2 separate regions of the Homo sapiens genome follow, and region 1 is linked to region 2. A link means that fine-mapping ties the variant in region 2 to the expression of a gene that starts in the linked region. Tissue or cell type: nasal epithelium. Region 2 holds a variant in brackets; the other region holds the start of a gene. All regions are shown on one strand. Distances are between the middles of the regions. Region 1 holds the start of EGLN3-AS1 (EGLN3 antisense RNA 1). Region 2 overlaps LOC102724945 (a long non-coding RNA gene).

Region 1 (11,436 bases), 27 kb after region 2:
AACTGAGATCACTCCACTCAACTGCAGCCTGGGCAATGAGTGAGACTTCGTCTCAAGGAAAAAAAAAAAAAACACAACACTCCACTCAGCCTTCCTTTCTTCACTCTAGGATCAGACTTACAGTGTGACGACTGTTTTACCTTCCTTTAGCTCCCTTGCCACTTTCTCGTAGACTTTCACACTACTAAAATCCTGCCATGTTTGATCTTGTCTTGATGTCTGCTTCTTGGGGGACTGGGGACTAACATGCCCCAGTTTTTGCTTGAATAAATAATCTGTAATCTTCATTCCCTTAAGAATATTTAGCAAACACCTATTATGTGCTGGGAATACAGGGGTGAACAACAAAAGCATCTGTGCCCTCATCAGTAACAGATTAATCAAATAATTGCAAAAATTAAAAGTAGAGGGACCTGTGATGAGATGAGAGGGGAGAACCTGACCTATTCTATGGGAGTGGGAGAGAATCCCCTGAAGGATGAGGAGTTAACCAGGCAGAGGTGTGAAGTATTTCAGGCTGATGAACAGAAGGTGCAAGGCCCTGGGCTAGTAGGGAGCTCCCCAAACAAAAGGACTTGGAGGAGGCTTCAGACAAAGGAGGGGAATGCAGAGCAATGTGACTGAAGAGGACGGCCCTTAAGAGACTGAAGAGGATGGCCTTGTGGGCCATCTTGGGAATTTGGAAAGACAATTTCTCTTTCTAGAGTGCCAGCTCTTTGAAAGCAATTACCTTGTAGCAGCCCTCTTTGCTAGTTCTGCCTTGCACAATGCAAATGCTCACTAAATATTTGTTGAATCAAACTAATAGAAATCAGTAAGGAAATAACTCAATTTTTTTGTGTGTGTTATTCTCCCTATCACCAACGGCACAGCAAATTAGCCAAATGCGTCCACCACATAGAAGCTTCTGGCCCCTGCTGGCTGATAAAAATCATCACAATGAGGATGATAATTCCCAGGCATTGGTTTAATTGTTGGAGAGACACAAGCAGAGAGATGCTGCAGAACATGCTCTGGATCAAACTGTCCAAGTACTGGTCCATCCGGGTGCGGTGGCTCATGCCTGTAATCCCAGAACTTTGGGAGGCCAAGTCAGGCAGATCACCTGAGGCCAGGAGTTCGAGACCAGCCTGACCAACATAGTGAACCCCGTCTCTAATAAAAATACAAAAATCAGCTAGGCATGGTGGCCCACGCCTGTAATCCCAGCTATTCCTACTGAGGCAGGAGAATCGCTTAAATCTGGAAGGTGGAGGTTGCAGTGAGCCCAGAGCACCCCCCACTGCACTCCAGCCTGGGAGACACAGTGAGATTCTGTCTCAAAAAATATATATATATTGACCTTACCACTTCCTACTTGGGTGACCTTAAGTTACCTAATGTCACTGCATCTCAGTGTCCTCATCTGTAAAGCAGAATTGATCCACTACCTCCATTGAAGCACTGGGGATGGGAGATGGGTACAGGAAATTGTTATAGAAAGTACCTTCAGCATACTGTCTGGTGCAGAGCAAGCGTCCAATAAATGGTACCAATTGTTAATATTCACACGTGGTCCTCTCGGCTGAGATAAGAGAACATGCACAGGGAGACTTCCCAAACCAGAGGGAGTTGTCACAAACTGTCATCAGAAGTGCATGGGATCACTTCTGATGCAAGAGGCCAGCTTTAAGGACCCACTGGGTAGGCCGCAAACCTTGATGCCTGGCCAAGCCCAGGCTTGCACTTTACACACTTGGACTCTGAATCCCACAGTAGTATTTAAATATAGATCTGAACACCAGACTAGACAGTGCACCACTAATGTGCGGGTATATGCAACATGCTCAAAAGGCAAACAGCGGCTAGGGAAAGGACACACTGCTTCTAGCTTTTCTGTCCTGGAGGACAGAGGCTGCGCCTTTTTTTGGCTCCATTTCAGAGCAGTAAAAGGCAGCATCATGAGCAGACACGGCCTAGTTCCTGCCTCTCAGGTTTGTTTTCCCATGTGGGACATTGCAGTTAGATCCTGAGCTTAGAAGAAAATGCCTACGGAATCAAAAAGGATAAAAGGAGGAAAAATACCTGGCTTCTGCCCCAAACGCTGTGCCCTAGCTGGCTCCAGCTGCCTTGGAATGGGGCAGGGTGGTTGGGTTGTAATTGCCCGGGCAGAGATATGAGGTATGCAGGCCTACGTGCACTGCCTCACACATCACTTGGCTGGGAGGGGCTCTGTTTAGTCAGTGTCCAGCTGATAACGACCTGAATCCTTAGGATGCCAGCTGCCTGCCAAGCTGGACATGTACAGACAGTGGCACCCAGAGGTCCAGGAGACAGAACAAAGGGCCTGTTACTGAGTCAGCCCTGTCTAAGTGTGTCATCCTTACTGAAAAAGGTTTTGGGCAGGCTGGCAGAGAGGCTATGTCCCAGGAAGCCCAGAATTCTGGAATGGAGACAGTCAAATTCTAAAGGGGTTCTCTGCTGGCAGATTCCTGTCATTGATTCAACCTGGGCTCTCTCACTAGGATCTGGCAGTTGGGCCATACCTTCCTAAGAGTATTCTTTTCCCTGCCTCCCACTGTTGCCAGGCCCAGCTGGTGCTGGCTCTCTTAGTGCCCTCTTGTTTAGGGGGACCGCATCCATCAGGGCCTTAAACCTTCCCTCTCCCCTTTTCACCAGGACATAATGATATTAATGATGGCTAACACATATTTAGGACTTACATCAGCCACTTACTGCTCTAAGCACTTCACATATATGTTGACTAATTTACTCATCACAACCACACTATGAGATGTGTACCATTATTTTCCCATTTAACAGATGAGTAAACTAAGGCACAGAGAGTAAATACCTTACCCAAAGTCATGCAGATAGCAAGGTGACAGAGCCAGGAAGCAAGTCCAGGTGGTCTGAACCCAGAGTCCCTGCTCCTAACCATTATGCTATATTTCTTCTCGGTTCATGACCAAGTTCTTACTGATTAAAATTAGTTTAAAATCAACCGATTCCTAGGCCTGCTTTTCCAGAATGAACAGCACTCAAGCTCAGAGCTGGGATTTCATAACTTCCTATTTTGTGTATAGTAAAATTGAGAAATGTTTACAAATTAGGAGAGGCTAGGAAGGGAAGCCAAGCAGCTCAAAAATGTGATATCAGCTTTGTGATGAAAACTGGTCTTTTCAGCCAAGTGAGTACTTGGACAAAATATCCCTCTCAATGCAAGCTATGCCTTAGATTTTCTAGTTTAAGAGACACTTGTGATACTAAAATTAGTCGGGTGTGGTGGCGGGCACCTGTAATCCCAGCTACTTGGGAGGCTTGAGGCAGGAGAATCACTTGAACCTGGGAGGCAGATGTTGTAGTAAACCAAGATCACGCCATTGCACTCCAGCCTGGGTGACAGAGTGAGACTCTGTCTCCAAAAAAAAAAAGAGACACTTGTAATTCAGTTAGGGGAACTGGGTACATAGTTAGGAAAAGCAGCTCATGGTTTGTTTATACCACTCCCCACTCCCACCACCACCCAGGCACCTCACCCCAGGCAGAAATAGCAGCCTTACAAATTTGAATGTTGTGGCCAGATTCGTGAGCCAGTCCCAGAAAGAGGGAATTCTTTGTAGCCATGGAAGTAATGGATGATCTAACATTACTGACCACTTAATCGCTAGGTACTTTATGTCATTTAATGCTCGCAAAAAGCCTAGGACATTGTTACTATTTTCCCCATCTTGTAGATGAGAATGCTGATGTTCAGAGATCTTATATACCTGCTCAAAGTAAGTCCTGGTGAATCTAGGACTCAAACCCCATCTGAATCCAAACGAGGGAAGGACTCAGTGCCAATTCAAGTCCAACTTTCCCAGGAGCCTTCCCTGTCTCCTCTGACCCACGTCAGCCCCTGTATTTTGACACAACTCTATTACCTGTCATCTTGGCCACAATCTGCACTTATTACCATTGTTTCATGCTGGGCCAGTCTTATTAGCCAATAAGATTGTAAATTTTGGGGAGCAGTGACACTGGGTTGAATTTTGTTTCTGGCTATTTCAGGACAGACAAACTGGGAGAGCTAAACACCTAGAACCACAGCCTGGTCTCCCTAGTCGCGGTAGGTCCGTCACTTCATCCCTAGAAAGTGCCAGTTTGGCTTTACGAGTTTCTAAACCATTCATTGGGAATAGTTTACATGTTATGCTTGCCCTCCTTTGTCAATCTCTTTACTGCTACTGCAGTTGGGTCCAGATATTGCAAATCCTCCCCGAAAGTAACTAATTCTGACTGCATTGTCACAAACTTGGGTTTAGCACAAGAGGGAAAGGTAGCTGAGTTTCCAATTCTGCTTCTCTTTGACTGTAGCTCACCATGCTGCAGGCCCTTCCTCCCATGATGGTGCTAACCAACATAAGCCCTAAGCTCTAATCTCAACCCTCTCCCAAATCCCAACATGTCAGACTAAATAATAATAAGGCCACAGGGCAGGCACACTGAGGCATGTGTGCATCATTACCCAAGTCAAAACCAAGATATATTCCAGGGCAGTTTACGATGCAGAAGTCACCCTTTAATTTAACAAACAAGCAAGAGGGCTGGGTGTTTCCTTCATTTCCCGAAGTAAAGAGCAAAAGCTTTTCTCATAGTAAAAAGCCTGAACCCACTCAACCTGATCCTGTCCTCCCAGTCAACAAGCACATTGATGTCAGTAAGAGTGTCCAGACATATAATCATGTATGAAAGTCAACAAAAGGAAGGCATCATCTCTTTCTGCCACCTCTCCAGAAGATGTGATAGTGAAGGTGTTGTCAGCTAACTGCTTCAAAGGCAAGCAGGGCAGTAGGCTGTTCCATGTCCCCTGGGAACATGAACATTACTTCACACTACGATTTACTGAAACAAAAGCAAACAGGGACCAGCAGAGACAGCTGTGAAATGAGATGGTGACATCTTCCTGATGCCTTTCAGCTGCTTGGATCTCCCCATTTTAAGACAGATAATGAGGCCATCTTAGGCTCAGCCCTTTTCTGATCCCATCTCTTTTCACTACAATGTACCTGTGCAGTGTGCTGATCCCTCCATGTTTTTAAAGGGAAGTTCCTCTGATCAGTGACTCCGTCGGAATATGTCGATGTCTAGCCTCACACTACAGGGTGATGACAGGCAGCCTTTTTTTCCCTCCTCTTAGGTTATACGAGCGTCTTAAACATAGTGGAACTCACAATTCCAGCTTCATTCCAAACTAGTGAGATATTTCTCAGCTGCTTCCTCCACCTGCTCCTGAGGTCCAGAGTACAGGGCATTTGCCTAAGTCAGCATGCTAGGTGATAACCACAAAGCTTTTCCTGCCAACCTTGCCATTTCCAAGCCCTTCTCTAACTGCATTCTCCTCTATTCTAGTCTCAACTCTGCTTGCTATTGGTGGAGTGCTTCTCCAGGGATGCATGTGGAGGAAAAGGAAAAGGAACCAGAGATGAAGGGGACATCCTCCTCCCTGGCACTGTCTCCATCTCTCCACAGTTCACCCATCATCTCCATTGGAAGGAAGGTACTCATGATCTTCACTGGAAGGAAGGCACCCAGAACCGCCCTGCAGAGACCATGAAATTAGTTGAGTGCTTCTCAAGAAATCTGTGATAAAGGGCCCGCTGATTTTTTCTAAAATTTCCAATCTACTATGAATCCTCAATTTTGTAGAATAAACAAAAATGAATTATTAGAAAAGAGTTAAAAATAACAGGCATATAAAATACAAGCTCAACTTTTTTGTTATTATGTCATAAAACTATTCCATCATATTGCTATGAACGTTTCTAAACAATTGCTCTCCATTTCTTCCCTTGTCCACAAACCAGCACGGGTTTGAGTCTCCCTGCTCTAGCTCAAGGTCTTAGCTATTTACTTAACCACTCAGAGCCTTGACCTGTTGTTTCTGCAAGATGGAAGAACAGTCATTACCTCAGCTGGTCAATGATGTCCCACATCTATATAATTCCAGGGACTCATTCCTGATTCTCCCTTAAGTTCTGAAAATATTTCAAAGACAGTAAAATAATGCTGAACTTCTGAGGAGGGTATTTGTTTGCATTTCTTACTGCTGATCTGGAACTACCTAATATTAAAGCACCTTGGAGAGTAATGAAAGAAATACACAAGAGAAGAAGAGGCAAACACTGGTGGGTCACTCACTGTCTCAGGGCTTCCTTTGTGGAACCAATAGGTATTTTGAAAAGCATCCTGAAAACATGTCAAAGGTCTAAGGATTGTTATCATTGGGGCTGGTGAGTCATGGCCCAGACAGACAGTAATACAGGTGCCCAATCGGCTGCTGTCTATCCAAAACATGCCACTGGACTGTGAGGGAGGCAACCCTTAAAATGGTGTGAAATAGAAAAAGAGGACAAACTTGTCTGCAGCACTCAGGAGGCTCAGGGAATTAACCAGGAGGGAACAGTAGCCCGGTTAAAATAGTTTCTGTACTTCCAGAGGAAGCAATTAAATCTCAGCGTCTACCATGGCAAAAGACCGATTGTACTTGAGGAACAAAATCGGGGATGATCATCCTTTAGTGGCGGGAAGCTGGAAAATGAGGTAGGACATATAGGGTGATGGGCAGGACTCTGCTATGGACTGAATATTTGTGTCTCCCTCACCAAATTTATAAGTTGAAACCTAAATCCCCAATGTCATGGTATTTGGAGGTGGGGCCTCCAGAAGTTTTTATATCATTATGGTGGAGCCCTCTTGAATGGGATTAGAGCCCTTATAAGAAAAGACATGACAGAGATGCTCTCTCTCTGGTTTCTGCCATGTGGGGATACAAAGAGAAGATGGCTATTTCTAATCCAGGAAGAGGGCCCTCACTAGACACTGGATCTGCTGACTTCTGAGCCTCCAGAATTGTGAGAGATAAATTTCTGTTATTGAAGCTACCCAGTCCATAGTGGTTTGTTATAGCAGCCTAAACTAAGACTCTATTCCACCAGAAGCAATTTTTAAAATAGCTTTATTGGCATATAATTGGCATCCAATACACTTCATGTGTTTACAATATAAAATTTAATATGCGTTGACACAGGCACACACCTACAAAACCATCACAACAATCAACCATCACCGGCACATCCATCACCACCAAAAAGTTTCCCAGTGCCCCTTTATCATCCCTGCCTCCCTGCTCTTCCTTCCCTACCCACAAGATAAGCACTGACCTCCTTTCTTTCATTATATATTTGTTTGCATTTTCTATAATTTTATATAAATGGAAACATGCAGTATATATGCTTTTTGAGGATGGGGGGGGTCTGGCTTCTTTAATTCAACATAATTATTTTGAGAATCATTCATGTTGTGGTATGTATCAATTGTTCATTCTTTTATATTGCTGAGTAAGTAGTTTTTCACTTATAGCAATTTTACATCTCAAGCAAGGTTACCCTGGGACTAAAATTTTGAGGTGTTAAGGAAAGTTTATAAAAAATGTGGGCTTTCCCTTAGAGCAGAGCTTGCTGCTGCTATCTTGGGAAATAAACCTTTTCTTTGGTCTCAAAATTAAGGACAGTTAATTAAAGAAAAAATAGCCATTTAATATTCTTTAATGATAAAAAGAATTTTGTAATTCCCAGGGACTGTGGGCTGTGAGGAGAGAGAAAGAGGCTTGAGAAACCAGAAACCATCATTTGCATCCAAGGTAAATCTCAACCCATTCTGATTCTCAGTTTCCTATTGTTTGTTTCTGCACTTGTGGTAGTAAATGCACTGAAGAGAATGTTACTATTCCAGTCTTGATTTTGCTTTTGGAATCACTAGAAGGGAAGACTACTCTGCACTGCAATTATATCATTCATTCGTGCATTCATTCATTCAGTCACCATACATGTATCAGTGTCTTCTCTATGCTTGACATCACACTGGGGATAAAGAGACAGATCTAAGGCTTATGGGAAGACTCGGTTCCTGCTTTCACAGAGTTATGGGGTATGCAGGTATCAAGGCTGCAGAGTTTTACAACAGACTGACAGTAAATGAGAGATCAAAGAGATGACAGACAGGTCAAGATGGTGCTGAGGCTCTCAAGTTCCCATCATGGAGACTAGAAGACAGGATTGAATATGGATATGGTGACAGAGGAAGGATTCTGACTCATAGACTATTAGAAAACACAGGCCCCATTGGCAATAACAGAGAATGCAACCCCCAACTCCCCCAAAGGAGCGGTGGGGAAGACTGGAAGATGTAGAGGCATATGGAGCATGGCTCCTGTCTCCAAACACTAGCCTTGAATGTGCACATTGTTGTTTGCACTACCAAAAAGTAAAGAAACCTATTTTCCTTTTTTTTGTTTTTTTCTTTTTTTAAGACAAGGTCTCACTCTGTCGCCCAAGCTAGGGTGCAGTGGCGTGATCACAGCTCACTGCAGCTTTGACCTCCCAGATTCAAGTGATCCTCCCACCTCAGCCTCCTGAGTAGTTGGGACCACAGGTGTGTGCCACCACTCCTAGCTAATATTTTAAAATTTTTGTCTATAGAGATGGAGTCTCCCTATGTTGCCCAGGCTAGGCTTGAACTCCTGGCCTCAAGTGATCCTCCTGCCTTGGCCTCCTAAAGTGCTGGGATTACAGACACACCCAGCCTAGAACCTATTTTTATAAATAGGTGGCAGTAGTCTACAGAAGTTTCCTTTTAAAAAGTGTGTTTGTTCCCAATCCATCTGTCATAAAGTTACACTAAAAGAGCACAAAGGGAAAATAGCAGGACACAAAATTGAATGAGTAAGGTGAGGATTATAATAAAAAATACAAACAACCTATTGCTTAGGAGGAAGGGGATCTAGTGGAGAAATGCCCAAAGAAATACCAGAAAAGCTAAACATCACCTTTTTGTGTCTTCTTCAAAATTTCTTTAGTGAGCATTTTCCTATTCGAGTTTTCAAGAATTATTTTGAAACATATCCTTCATGGGAAGTCATGGATTCTCAGCAGAAGGAAACCAAAATCACCAATCTGAATTTGCCTGCAGTCTAGAGAGAAGCCTAGAACCAGGGAGGGGGCTTCAGGGAAGCCAGTGGCAAAGGAAGGGTAGGACTTTGCCAAGGGGTTTTTGCAGCCTGAGAACTATACCCTGAGGTGCAGAGTGAAGAAGTGCAGATAGGAGGGACTGGAGTTCAACGGGAGAGCAGCACACAGGCAGGTGTGAGTAGTAGCCTTAGAAGGGCCAGGACCAATAAGGCCAAGGACATGGCTGGGCAGCCATGAGAAAGCAATTTCTTTAGACCTCAGGATCCTTGTCTTCCAAATGGAAAAGGAGCACTGGGTGATCTTTAAGATCCCTTTTAACATACAGGAATTTGAATTGTATAATTCATGCCAATATATATCTATTGAAGACCTCAGCTGAGATTCTCCAACCTCAGCCTCCCAACTGGCTGGGACTATAGGCGTGTCCCACCACACCCAGCTAATGTTTTTTATTTTTTTGTATAGATGAGGTCTCACTATGTTGCCCAGGCTAGCCTCGAACTTCTTGGCTATGTCTGAAGCACAGTGGGTCAGCAACTACAAACCTCCTCTCCAGTTAGCTCACATCAATCCAAAAATATTGAATATCGGTTACTCAATATATAGTGATGTATATTTTCTAGAAAAAGAGTTGTGTTGTGCAAAAGTAATCCCACATTAAAGCAAGGGCTAAGAGGGCAAACCTGTGGGGGTTTTTTGTTTTGTTTTGTTTTGACGGAGGAGTCCCCAGGCTGGAGTGCAGTGGCGCTATCTCGGCTCACTGCAACCTTTACCTCCCGGGTTCAAGTGATTCTCCTGCCTCAGCCTCCCAAGTAGCTGGGACTATAGACACACGCCACCACACCACACAAAAATACAAATAAATTTTTGTATTTTTAGTAGAGATGGGGTTTCACCATGTTGGCCAGGATGGTCTTGATCTCCTGATCTCATGATCCTCCTGCCTCAGCCTCCCAAAGTGCTGGGATTATAGGCGTGAGCCACCGTGCCCAGCCAAACCTGTGTCTTTTATAATGTTCCAATCTACTCTGATTAAGGACGTTGGAAAAGGGATTCTCTAAGGGTCATGGAATGGAAACTAACACATGCCTCAAAGGGGAGATGCCAAGACATGGAGGAAAAACCTAGTACCCTCATGGACGTTACTGTCAGAAGGGGTGTCCTTGTCTTACTCCCAGAACTGTCTCCAGTCACCACTGTTGACTAAAGTTAGAGGTGAGCTGCTGTCTCTTGGTGAGGAATGTGAAAACTCATGCACAGATAGGTGGAGCAGGAAGTTGGGGGAAGGTCAGAAAGAAAACAAAAGGGTTTCCTGGGATGAGTCACTGCCTTTCTGGGAAACCATTTCAGAAGCCACCGTGAAGTCCCCAACACCTGTCCAAGCCCTATACTTTGTGCTCAAATGAAGTGTGGCAAACAAAGTTCTGAGCCACATCTGACAGCCCACAGGCCACATGGAGGGCAGAGGTGTGAGAAAGAGCTGTGTGAGGCCAGCACACGTGACAATCTGCACATCACCTACCAGAGTCTCCAGAGCTCACTTTTCAGTGGACTGAAGGCTCTTAGTTCAAATTATCCTCTTCTTTAAATGGAGCACACTTTATGCTATTGTTTCCTGCAATGGCCACAGCTTGGATTTTCAGATAAAGTTTTTAAGTGTAGAAGGCTTACTGAATCTAGAGGAAAAAAACAAATCTGACCATAATCCTGAGTCTACAAAGTAAAATGGGAATTGGTGGATCCCACATGAGATGAATTCCATTTGTTAATTTATGTTGATCTGGAAACAAAACCAACTTTTATCTCTTCATCCACTAAAAGGGATGTGTGCAACAAACTGGAGAAAGTCAACCAAGACATAGGAAGACACGGGTGCCAGAACACAGGGCATCCAACCCAGGAGAGCAGGAGAGAGGAATTCCAGAATGATGGCAAGGAGAACACGGTGGCCCTGGAGAACCACCTCTCCCAAATACGGGCAGGACAGGGGCCTTTAGGAGGGCTGTCTCAGTGAAAGAGGGAATAATGTTTGCGCATGGATCAGGACGTGATGCACAGTTCTGTCAGGGAGCTTTGCGTGCAAAACCAACCAACTAAGCCAATTAAAACAAAAATAAATCAATTATTCATTCCAGAGGTAAAGAGTTACATAAGAGAGAACAAGTAATCTTAGCACAGTACATGGCTCAGCGTGAATGATCGTCACATACTTCCAGAAATGTGACCACCGAAATATTGGTTTCATCCACATCATAAAACAGTGCTATAACCATATCTGGAGCAAGGGAGGAAGGGGAGAGTGACAGAAAGGGGGATGCAAACACAAGAAAACTAACTCCTCATCTGCCTCAGCAGAAAGTTAGTGCATAATATCCAAACCTGCAAAATCAAGAAATAGCAGCATAAGCATGTTGTTTAGAAGGTTTTCGGATTTGGAAGCAGTTGC
Region 2 (11,436 bases):
TTCCGATTCCAGCTATGACACATACTAGGTGTTTATCCGTACCAGTTATTTAAGCTTTGTGTGAATACTAAGTGGATTTATCTTGTAGGCTGTCATAATCATTAAATGAACTAATGTAAGAAAAGTTCTTAAAATTAGTACTTTGTTTATATTTTAAAAAAAAAAGCAATATACAAAAAACACAGTGAAAGTTTTTCTAGAAAGAGATTTTGATATAATCCCAGTGGGGAGAATTCATTCCAGGATTCAGGGCACAATGTGAGCAAAGATTCAGAGAGTAAAGCATAAAGAGCGCTTTGGAAATAGCAACTAATCCATTGCAGTTAAGACTTTTGGGTCTGTTAAAAGGAGTGCTGAGAACTGAAACCAGAAAGGCAAGATGGGCCCGGATTACCCAAAGGGCCAAGAATACCAAGCCAAAGAGCTGTGGCTCTGTCCTGCACGCGCTAGAGGACCACCAAGAGTGTTTGAGCCAGGGAGAAGCATGAATGTTGGAGAAACACTAATTATTCCCTGTGTTTTAAATAATCACTGTGTTCATAGCAAGTGCCAGACATTGTGGGCAAAATGGTCCCTGCCCTCATGGAAGCTTCAGGTTAGAGGAGGAAGGAGATGTTAAATAACCGAACGAATAAGAGTTGTGAAGGAAAAGTGCAGAGTGTTCTGAGAGCTCGTAAGACACCTTAACGTAGATGGAGGGGTGAGGAAGTCAGGCTGAAGAGGTGACACCGGGCTGAGATGTAAAGATATGCAGGAGTGGGCCGAGTGGGCTGGAGAGAAGAGTTTGCTGGGCAGAAGAACAGGACGAGCATAGGCTCTGTGGCAAGAGGGGAAATGACACTCCAAACCTTCTGGGAAAAGGCCAGTGGAGGTAGAACCAGGGGCCTGGGAGATTGTGGTTTGAGATAAGAAAGTGTTAGGCAGGGTTAAATTACCCACCACCTTGGCCACACTGATTGAGCCAGGTATCAACACCTGGCCAAAAGACAGGCTCCTTTAGACTCCTCCGCCAGGTCATCATAAGGTGACCTCGAGTGACACCAGATAGTTATTGCCAGAACCAATCAATGCCTCTCTCTTGGGGAGTTTGAACGTGAAATAGACAGGGAGAAAAAGACTCAGGAATAGAGAAAAACAGACTGACAGATAAATAGAATACAGTGGCAATGCAGAAACAGACATAACATGAACCCTGTAGGCGATATTAAGGATCTTGGTCTTTATGTCAAGCACAAATACCGGTAAGAAATGATGGGGACTGAAAGAGGATTACAGAAGCAGAAATGAAGAAGAGGGGGTGGTAGTTTCAAAAATATGTCCATAAGGACACTTCTCACTTAATTCCTTCTTTTTGAGTGTAGGCTAGACTTAGCTGTTTCCTTTTAACAAACAGAATATGGTAAAAGTAATAGTGTGTGACTTCCAAGATTAGGTTCTAAAGAGGACTGCAGCTACCACCCTGAGCACATACGTTCTCCCCCAACCCACTCCTCCTCCTCTCCCACTACCCCTCCCCAAGTGGGGAAAGTAAACTGTCATGTGGTGAGAAGCCCTGTAGAGAAGTCCATGGTGAGGAACTGAAGCCTCCAGCCAATAGCCAGGAAGGAACTGAGATCTGCTTACAACAATGAGTGATTTTTTTTCTTTAATTTCCATGTTAATTTTAGATTCAGAGAGTACATGTGCAGGTTTGTTACAAGGATATTTTGCTTGGTGCTGAGGTTCGGGCTTCTACTAGTCGTGTCACCCAAATAGTAAACATAGTACCTAATAGAAAGTTTTCCAGCCCTTACCCCCCAAACTTTGAAGTCCCCAGCGTCTATTGTTGCCATCTTATGTCTGCGTGTAGCCAAGATTTAGCTCCCACTTATGAGTGAGGACATGAGATAATTGGTTTTCTGTTTCTATGTTAATTCGCTTAGGATAATGGCCTCCAGCCACATCCGTGTTGCTGCAAAGGACATAATTTCATTCTTTTTATGGCTGTGTAGTTTTCCATGATGTATATATACCATATTTTCTTCATCTCATCAGCCATTGATGGGCACCTAGGTTGATTCCATGTCTTTGCTATTGTGAACAGTGCCAAGATGAACATACGAGTGCATACGTCTTTTTGGTAGAACGATTTATTTTCTTTGGGGTGTATACCCAGTAATGGGATTGCACGGTTGAATGGTAGTTTAGTTTTAAGTTCTGTGAGAAAACTCCAAACTGCTTTCCACAGTGGCTGAAGTAATTTATGTTCCCACTCTGCAGCCTCACCAGAATCTGCTGGGTTTTGTTTTTTTTTTACTTTTTTATAATAGCCATTCTGGCTAACGTGAGATGGTATCTCATCGTGGTTTTGATTTGCATTTATCTGGTAATTAGTGATGGTGAGCATTTTTTCATATTTTTTGGCCACTTGTATGTCTTCTTTAGAGAAGTGTCTGCTCATGACCTTTGCTCACTTTTTTTTTTTTTTTTAATTAAACAGGGTCTTGCTCTGTTATCCAGACTGGAATGCAGTGGTATGATCATGGCTCACTGCAACCTCAAACTCCCGATTTGCCCACTTTTTAATGGAGTTATTTATTCCTTGTTGATTTGTTTAAGTTCTTCACAGATTCTGGATATTAATTCTTTGTCAGATGCATAGTATATGAATATTTTCTTCCATTCTATAGATTCTCTATTTACTCTGTTGATGGGTTATTTTGCTATGCAGAAGCTTTAGTTTAATTAGGTCCCACTTGTCAATTTTTGGTTCTGTTGCAATTGCTTTTGAGAACTTGGTCATAAATTCCTTGCCAAGGCCATTGTCCAGAAGAGTATTTCTTAGGTTTTCTTCTAGGATTTTAATAGTTTGAGGTCTTACAAAGTCTTTAATTCATTTGAGTTAATTTTTGTATATGGTGAAACATAAGGGTCCAGTATCATTCTTCTGCATGTGGCTAGCCAGTTTTCCCAGCACTATTTCTTGACTAGGAGTCCTTTCCTCATTGCTTTTTCTTGTGGACTTTGTTGAAGATCCATTGGTTGCAGGTATGCTGCATTATTTCTGCCTTCTTTATTCTGATCCATTGGTCTATGTCTCTATTTTTCTACCAGCACCATGCTGTTTTGGTTACTGTGGCCTTGTAGTGTAGTTTAAAGTTGAATAATGTGATGCTGCTGGCTTTGTTCTTTTCATTTAGGATTGCTTTGGCTATCTGGGCTCTTTTTGTTGTTGTTCCCTATGAATTTTAAAATAGTTTTTAAAATTTTTAAAATAATATTAGAGATAGGGTCTTGCCATGTTGCCCAGGCTGGTCTTAAACTCCTGGGCTCAAGCAATCCACTCACCTCAGCCTCCCAAAGTGCTGAGATTACAGGCATGAGCCACCCGGCCTGGCCAGTTTTTCTAATTCTATAAAAAATGGCATTGATCATGAGTGATCTTAAAAGTGGTTCTCCATCCGTAGTCAACCTTTAAGATGACTGCAGCCCCAGATAACAACTTGCCTACAACTTCATGAGAGATCAGCTAAGCTAAGCCACTCTCAGATTCCCAGCCTTCACAACCTGTATGAAATAATGGACATATTTTAAGCTGCCAAGTTTTGGCACAATTTGCTATGCACATTGCGTAATGAACACAGAGAGAGATGAATGAAATTCATATTATATAGGTGGAATTGCCAGGACTTTGTGATCATAGCTATTGGGTATAGAGTTGCAAAAGAAGTAAAAAGAATCCCGAGCTTTGGACTGGCTCACTGAGGTTCTATTTTTAGAGAAGGGGTTGGAACACGGGAGGAAGAATTTTGCGGAGAAAGAAAATAATTTCCATTTTGAACTCATTAAATTCGAGAGGCTGATGAGATTTTCAGGTGAATATGTCCCCTGGAGATTTGAAAATATGGCAGGGTGTTAGAGTGGAGAGGGCTGTATGGATAGATATCACTGGGGTAGAGGAGAACCATGGCAGTGGAGGGTATTTCCAAGGAGAACAAGGAGATAATAAAGGCAGATGAAGGACAAACAGCAAGAATTAGATATATTTTTGGTCCCAAAAGTGGAAAAAGAGAAGTAATGCTAAAAAAAAAAAAAAAAAAGAAAAACGGTAAAAACTCTAACGAGAGTTTTGATAAGAAGATATTCAACAGTATCAAAAACTATAGAAAGAGATCCCTATGTCTGGAAAGTTTGGCCTCACATTATACATCTGCATATTAGATTATCTATAAATCTCCTAGTTGGGGTAAGTCAACACTGGCTGCACAGATTAAATCAAATTTCAAGAGCTACAATGCAAAAAACAAGAACTGAATTGTGGTCACCCCAGCAAAGCACTGGCCACCATGTGAAGCTCCCCACAGGTGGTCTATGTGTCTTTTTACAATACTCCTCTCAAATTACAACAGAAGGGACGCTCATGGTTCTCTCTAGACAACCTGCTCGTTTTAGAACGGGGGTTTTTCAAGTTGCAAAATATGGAGACCTTCTCGTTTACTCCAGGATAAAGATACTTAGGAGGCTTGAGGAAGCAAAGAAAATGGTTTCTGGGGCTACATGTGAGGCCTCATGGAGAACTGGAACGTGGTTCAGGATGAAGCAGCAGTTTCTCCAGCAGCCTGCCATTTCTGAAGCATCTCCTCCACTGAGTCCTTTCTCTACTTGCTGCTTCTTCTTAATCTTCTGCTAGCAGATGCCTTTCTATGCCTCCATTCATATCCTCTTCTACTGAAGTCATTACTTGCTTCATAGTGTCTGCTCACTGCCTTCTTTCCACGTCTCTCAGTTTCTGTGTCAACACTGGACTGCTGTCTATCAGTTGTCTGCTTTTCTCTAACTCTCTGTTCATCTCTGTCCCTAGTTCAAATCCCCCAAGAGTGGCTTTGACTGGTTCAGAAAGTCCCTATCCAGTGCCACCTTAGGCCACCTCCTAGGGGCTAAAAGCCTAAAGCAGTGTGTCTTTTGGTCAGTTGTTAATTCCTGGTTCAACCATTCGTCGCCAAAATGGTGGGGGAAGTGGATATCGAAGGCTAGAGAATTCCCTGTGGTCCCTTTTCCCCAAAAGGAGGCAGTGGGCCTGGAAGCTACTTTGTCTTAATGATGTTTCAAGTAGTATCCCCCAGTGAGCTAATGGTTTAAAACTTCCTTTTCTGAGTACAGATTCCTTCTAGAAGGGTTTTTATCTTTAATATTAGCTCAATTTAGAGCAACAACTACTTGTGGTACTAACCCTGAAAGCAGCACATGCTGGTTGCTTACTGACGAAAAATCAAAGGTAAAGACAGAAAATACCGGCTTAACAAGGCTTTGATAAACTGAAAAAGCCTAAAATTATTTCCGTGAACTCTGCTAACAGTAGCCAGTTAGTTCCTGCTCTTCATTCGTATTCATTCATTCATCACCACCTAGTTAGTAGGTATTCTTCTAGTGTGAAGAAGAAGCTGCTTAAGACAGAAATCCTACCCTCAAGGAGCTGACTCCCCAAGACAGGAGAAAGCAGGTACATCTTTCTTCTCATCTCTCTCTTCCCCAGTTCAACTCTCTCTTTCCTCCCTTCCCCTTTACTTCATGAATTTTTTTTGTAAATATGCCCATTCATAGTCAGTTCCTTCCTTGCCTGTGTTTCCTTTATTTATTTTTTTTATGTTTTAGAAACAGAGTCTCACTCTGTCACCCAGGCTGGAGATTCATCATAGCTTAATGCAGCCTTGAACTCCTGGGCTCAAGTGATTCTCCTTCCTCAGCCCCTGGAGTCGTTAGGACTATAGGCACATGCCACCATGCCCAGCTAATTAAAAAAACTTTTTTTTGTAAAGATATGGGTCTCACTATGTTGCCCAGGCTGTTCGAGTTGTCTCAAACTCCTGACCTCAAGCAATCAGTCCTGCCTTGGCCTCCCAAAGGGCTGAGACGAGAGGCATAAGCAACCCCACCCAGCTGCCTGTCCTTCCTTACTGTGTTGTCAAGGATTCATAGGAGCCCTCACAGACTCTGCCTTACCAAACATGTAAAAAGTAAACGTGGCTGGAAGAACACACACCAAAAGATCAA[C/T]AGCGATTACTCCGGGGAGGTAAGCAGGATGGGGCAGGAAGTGGATGGTTTTTAATTTACATACCTTTATAGTGTTGGAATTTTTTTTTCTTTTCTTTTTGAGACAGAGTTTTGCTCTTGTTGCCCAGGCTGGAGTGCAATGGCTTGATCTTGGCTCACCACAGCCTCCGCCTCCCAGATTCAAGTGATTCTCCTGCCTCAGCCTCCCGAGTAGCTGGGATTACAGGCATGCACCAACACGGATGGCTAATTTTTTGTATTTTTAGTAAAGACGGGGTTTCACCATGTTGGCCAGGCTGGTCTCGAATGTCCGACCTCAAGTGAACCGCCCGCCTCAGCCTCCCAAAGTGCTGGGATTACAGGCGTGAGCCACTGCGCCCGGCCAGTGTTTGAATTTTTATAAGCTTTTGTTTAGAGATTACTTATTATACTAGAAAAGTAAGTTAGAAGTAAACATTTTCTATTAAAAAAATGAAAAGAAATGAGAAGGAATGAACAACTGTGAACAAATGAAGTGGGTAAAATTTTCCACGGCCCTACCTCAAGGTTACTTTGGTTTCTTTTTTGTTTTTTGACAATCACTAAGGAAGCTCTGTGGAGTGAAGGAGGAACATCATCATCTGCAAGTGACTCAGAAAAAATCTCTTTTGTCCTTTAGATTTGTTTAATTCATGTAGATTGCTTTCTTATTCTTGAAATTCAAGTGACCGTATTCTTACTTTACTATAGAAAAGCAATTGACATGATAAAAATAAGCAAGCCATTTGGGACGTTGAGATTTTCGAGGTAGGTAATGGAAAATTTGGCGGTGAGGGGTCAACAAGGGATGATTTTTCCTAGACGTGTGAGCTTCCTGTAATGTGGAATGTGTACGTGTGAAATCACCAGTCTCTATATTTGCAATAACTTAATAACATGACGGTTCCTCCACCCGTCCTCTTTCCCCACACTGAGTTCCAGTTTCACACTGGGATACTCATTGTGAAGCTTTACAAAGAAAGGAGGAAGTAAACCTACCAACAAGGCAGCAATGTGTTTCAAATGCCACATTCTTAACAGATGAAGGTTTTTTTCATCACACTGATTAGCAATGCCACATGAGTCAAAGTGGATGGTCCAAATCTTGTATTTAATTTTCTTCTCGTGTCCTGGGCCTTTCAAATTTATTAATTATTGTTTACAAGGCCTTGCCTTGCTGGCGTACATTTAGCAGACACTACAATCTTAGCAAGGGTCAGCTTTATCTTGCTGCAGGGTTGCACCTGCTCCCTCAACTGAACTAAAAAGGAAGTAAAAATGTGGTATTTAAGTGGCCACAGCCTTTTGTCTGATGCAGGAAAGCAACGAGAGCTTCTGTTTCTTCACCGTTGTTCATGCTAAAGGGTCTCCAAGTGTATAACACTTAGAGGAATTAGTTTCCTGCTCCCTAAAAGCAAAGAGGTCCGCAGAGAAGAGACAGCAGCTGGCCAGTGAGTCCCAGTAATTCCCAGCAGCACACCAGGGTCTAACAGAGGAGACTACTGTGTTTGAGGAAACTGACGGGATCTAGAGAGAAACCAATGCTTAATGTTTGTCTATCATTCCTCCTAAAAATTAGGTAAGAGCAAAAATAGGCAAATTGCTGCTTGAGGAATAACTAATTTAGTAATAGTTCAGAATAATGCATTGCATTGCCCTTAGATTCAAAGTGGTGTTTTAAGTGACATTCTATTAGCAGAGCCTGCCAGCTGACAAAACTTAGGTAGTATTTGGCTCCCTAAGAGAAGGCAAACCATGAGCATGTGGATTTTGTTTTGTTTGGTTTTGTTTTTTTGAAGACGGAATCTCGCTGTGTTGCCCAGGCTGGAGTTCAGTGGCGCCGTCTTGGCTCACTGCAACCTCCGCCTCCTGGGTTCAAGTGATTCTCCTGCCTCAGCCTCCCAAGTAGCTGAGATTACAGGCTCGTACAACCATGTCCAGCTAATTTTTTTTTGTATTTTTAGTAGAGACAGGGTTTCACCATGTTGGCTAGACTGGTCTCCAACTCCTGACCTCGGGTGATTCACCTGCCTCAGCCTCCCAAAGTGCTGGGATTACAGGCGTGAGCCACCACGCCCTGCTGCATGTGGATATTTTAATTAAAGTTGAATACAGAACTCATTGTGCTTGATATTGAACTTCCTGGGACTACCGTGGCCCACTACTTGAATCTTAGTCCTGACATTGTTAAATGCAAGCAGCTCGGGAGAATGTGGTGGCTTGCTTCAGAGAAAGAAAAAAAGCACTTCTGACAAAATCCCAGAAGCTAAGGTTATTCACGGTTATAAAAGCAGTAACAAAAGTTTTGAATGTTGGTTCTACTGTTTACAATTTTAGAAAAATGTTGTTCGCCTGTCCTTTGATTTTATGAGGCAATTTTGAAAAACATCAATCAAAGAACTGCTCTGAATCTCCAGGTGTGAAAACAGGGGATGACAGGAAATCCAGATGGTCAAATTATGGGCAGAGGTTTTATATTTGTGATTGGTAGAGAGAAGGAGGCCTGTGTCTGAGGCACAACAGATGGGAAACAACCAACTTCATCACTTAAAGAATTATCCTCACTCTCACCCCACAATCTGGAAACAAGTGACAGTGTTGCTCTGCGTAAAGATAGCAGACCTCTTCCAGATTAGGGGGACTTAACAGAGCCGTTTAATTACTTTTTGGGTTAAGAAGTTGCCATCATTATCTCCATTAGTTAATAAGAGACTTACTGCCAGTGACTAAAAAGAAGTAATTACTATTATAATTTTTTAAAATTACACATACATTTCACAATTCTTTTTTTTTTTTTTTTTTTTTTTTTGAGATGGAGTCTCACTCTGTCACCCAGGCTGAAGTGCAGTAGCACAATTTTGGCTCACTGCAAGCTCTGCCTCCCAGGTTCATGACATTCTCCTGGAGAAGAGGAATATGGTATCAAACATCAAAATTTACTAAAGCGGCCAGTCTAGCAGATCATTCAGTCTTTGGAATTCCTTTTATTTATCTTTGAGTTCAAAATTCTGACCTATGTTTGTCTCAATTTAGATTACTGCTAAAATGGAGAAAAAATATGGCACCCATGAAGCCGCTGAATTAAAAGAAAGCATAAACTAACCTTTAAAAATAGTTTGAATTAAGCTTCTTTGGAAAGGGAGATTATAAGATTGGCTAATGCTCAAAAATGGTAATTTTCCTTTGTTTAACTTAAAGTAATAATTTATCTCAAAATAACATCACAGTTACTTGTAAAGATGATGGTATCTGGCTTTTCATTTGGAAGTGTTTTCCAGAAAGCAACTCAGGAATGTACAAAGTTAAACCTATATACACACCAGGTGTATGCGGTCAGGGGTACGCTTTGTTTACCTGTAACTGATTTTAACTTCTTTTAAAGTTAAAATTGAATTGCTCTTCTTTTAAAGAAAAATGTGCATCACTTTCATTTCAGTGGAGTTTTTTGTTTAACTCAAATAAAAAAGATAACAAAGAACTAATAGCCATATTCAATTGTTTAAAATCTTACAAATTAATGAAAAGATAAACAAGAAAAAAATTATGTCAAAGGACATAAATAATTTTGAAATGGCCAATAATCATTTGAAACAACATTAAACTTCATTAAGAATCTAAGGAGTACAAATTATAACAAGTATAAGATGTCATTTTTCACTAGAGCAATTGGAAAGAAAAATTTTAAATACTTAATGTTGGGGAATGTATATAAAAATAAGTGCAAGGATATACACTGCTAGTATAAATGTAGTGTGAGTGCGTGTGTGTATATATACATCTACATATATACCTTCTAAAAGGTATTGATTCAAATTTATTATATATACACATATATTATATAAGTATTATTTATATGAACATATACAAATATATGTATATGTATTTATCTAGATACATAATAAATATTATAAATATATTTATATTTATTTATATTTAGTGGACAATAATCATTTGAAACAATGTTTAGCTTCATTAAGAATCTACGGAAGAATGTTCCTGAAGGTTCTTCATGGAATGAAGAAATGGAATGGACCATGAAGAAATGGTCTTCATGGAATTCCCAGCATACCTCATACCAGAGAGAGAGAATATAACATCCGTTGTTCCCCATTACTATTCTCATTACATTAAGGATGAACAACAACCAGGAAGCGCAAAACTCTGGCAGCCATAAGCATATCTGAATATGTGATTTCTAATATTTATTTCCTATGTGATACACACACACTCACACACACACAGACACAGAGTCATGTGTGTTTTAAAGCCTTAGATGGGTGCATATTCTTTGATTCAATGACTAGATATCTAGAAATTTATTCAGAAATAATCACAGATATGCTCAAAGATATAGCTACAAGGATGCTCATTAGACAGCTATCAAAAACATTATCAAAAACTTGGAGACAGCCTAGATATCCAAAAATAGAGGGTTGCTTAAGTATGTTATAAAACATTTATACAGCAGAACACTACGCGGAGGCAGAGGAATATTTAATGTTTATAATACATTAAATGAAAAGGGAGCCAGGCATAGTGGCATGCACCTGTAATCTCAGCACTTTGGGAGGCTGAGGTGGGAGGGTAGCATAAGCCCAGGAGTTCAAGGTTGCAGTGAGCCACAATTGTGCCACTGCACTCTAGCCTGGGTGACAGAGTGAGATCATGTCTCAAAAAAAGAAAGAAAGAGAGAGAGAGAGAAAGAAAGAAAGAAAGAAAGAAGAAAGAGAAAGAAAGAAAGAAAGAAAGAAAGAAAGAAAGAAAGAAAGAAAGAAAGAAAGAAAGAAAGGAAGAAAGAAAAGGAAAGGGAGATTTCAACACTATTGCATCACTTCAGTTTTGCATTTACACAGTGAAAATTATAGTAAAACAAATCATGCTATTGGTGGTTTATCTCTGGGAACTGGGATTATTGGTGATTTTGATTTTATTCCCATTGTTTACCTGTCTTTTCTATAATTTCATAAAAAAACAGCTTTGTTGAGATGGCATTCACATATCATACAACTATTAATTTTCTTTTTTTTTTTTTTTGACATGGAGTCTTGCTCTATCGCCCAGGCTGGAGTGCAGTGGCGCAATCTCAGCTCACTGCAACCTCCACCTCCCAGGTTCTAGCAGTTCTCCTGCCTCAGCCTCCCAAGTAGCTGAGATTACAGGCGTGCACCACCATGCCTGGCTAATTGTTTTGTATTTTTAGTAGAGATCGGCTTTCACCATGTTGGCCAGGCTGGTTTCAAACTCTTGAACTCAAGTGATCTGCCTACCTCGGCCTCCCAAAGTGCTGGGATTACAGGTGTGAGACACCACACCCGGCTATTACTTTTATAATTAAGAAAAAAAGCAATAAAATTATTCTTACTGATTGAGGTAAACCTCTTTTGGGCA

Evidence for each region. PIP is the estimated chance that this variant, and not a neighbour inherited with it, causes the effect.
Region 1: it holds the start of EGLN3-AS1, and the variant in region 2 is the best candidate, but not a certain one, in a credible set for the expression of EGLN3-AS1 in nasal epithelium (TOPMed, PIP 0.87).

The regions. Positions count from the first base shown.
Region 1 is chr14:34,033,607-34,045,042 of GRCh38, forward strand. It overlaps EGLN3-AS1 (EGLN3 antisense RNA 1), which reads left to right and starts at 6,375. Exons shown (of 3, transcript NR_184209.1): 1 at 6,375-6,564; 2 at 7,599-7,663. All of the region lies in intron 5 of LOC102724945 (a long non-coding RNA gene), which reads right to left. RefSeq lists a silencer at 9,017-9,311 and enhancers at 9,830-11,029, 10,157-10,556, 10,157-10,451.
Region 2 is chr14:34,006,548-34,017,983 of GRCh38, forward strand. All of the region lies in intron 5 of LOC102724945 (a long non-coding RNA gene), which reads right to left. Among named protein-coding and RNA genes, the nearest start is that of EGLN3-AS1, 28 kb to the right of the region's middle. RefSeq lists an enhancer at 7,428-7,597. The variant C/T (reference allele first, on the strand shown) is at 6,031.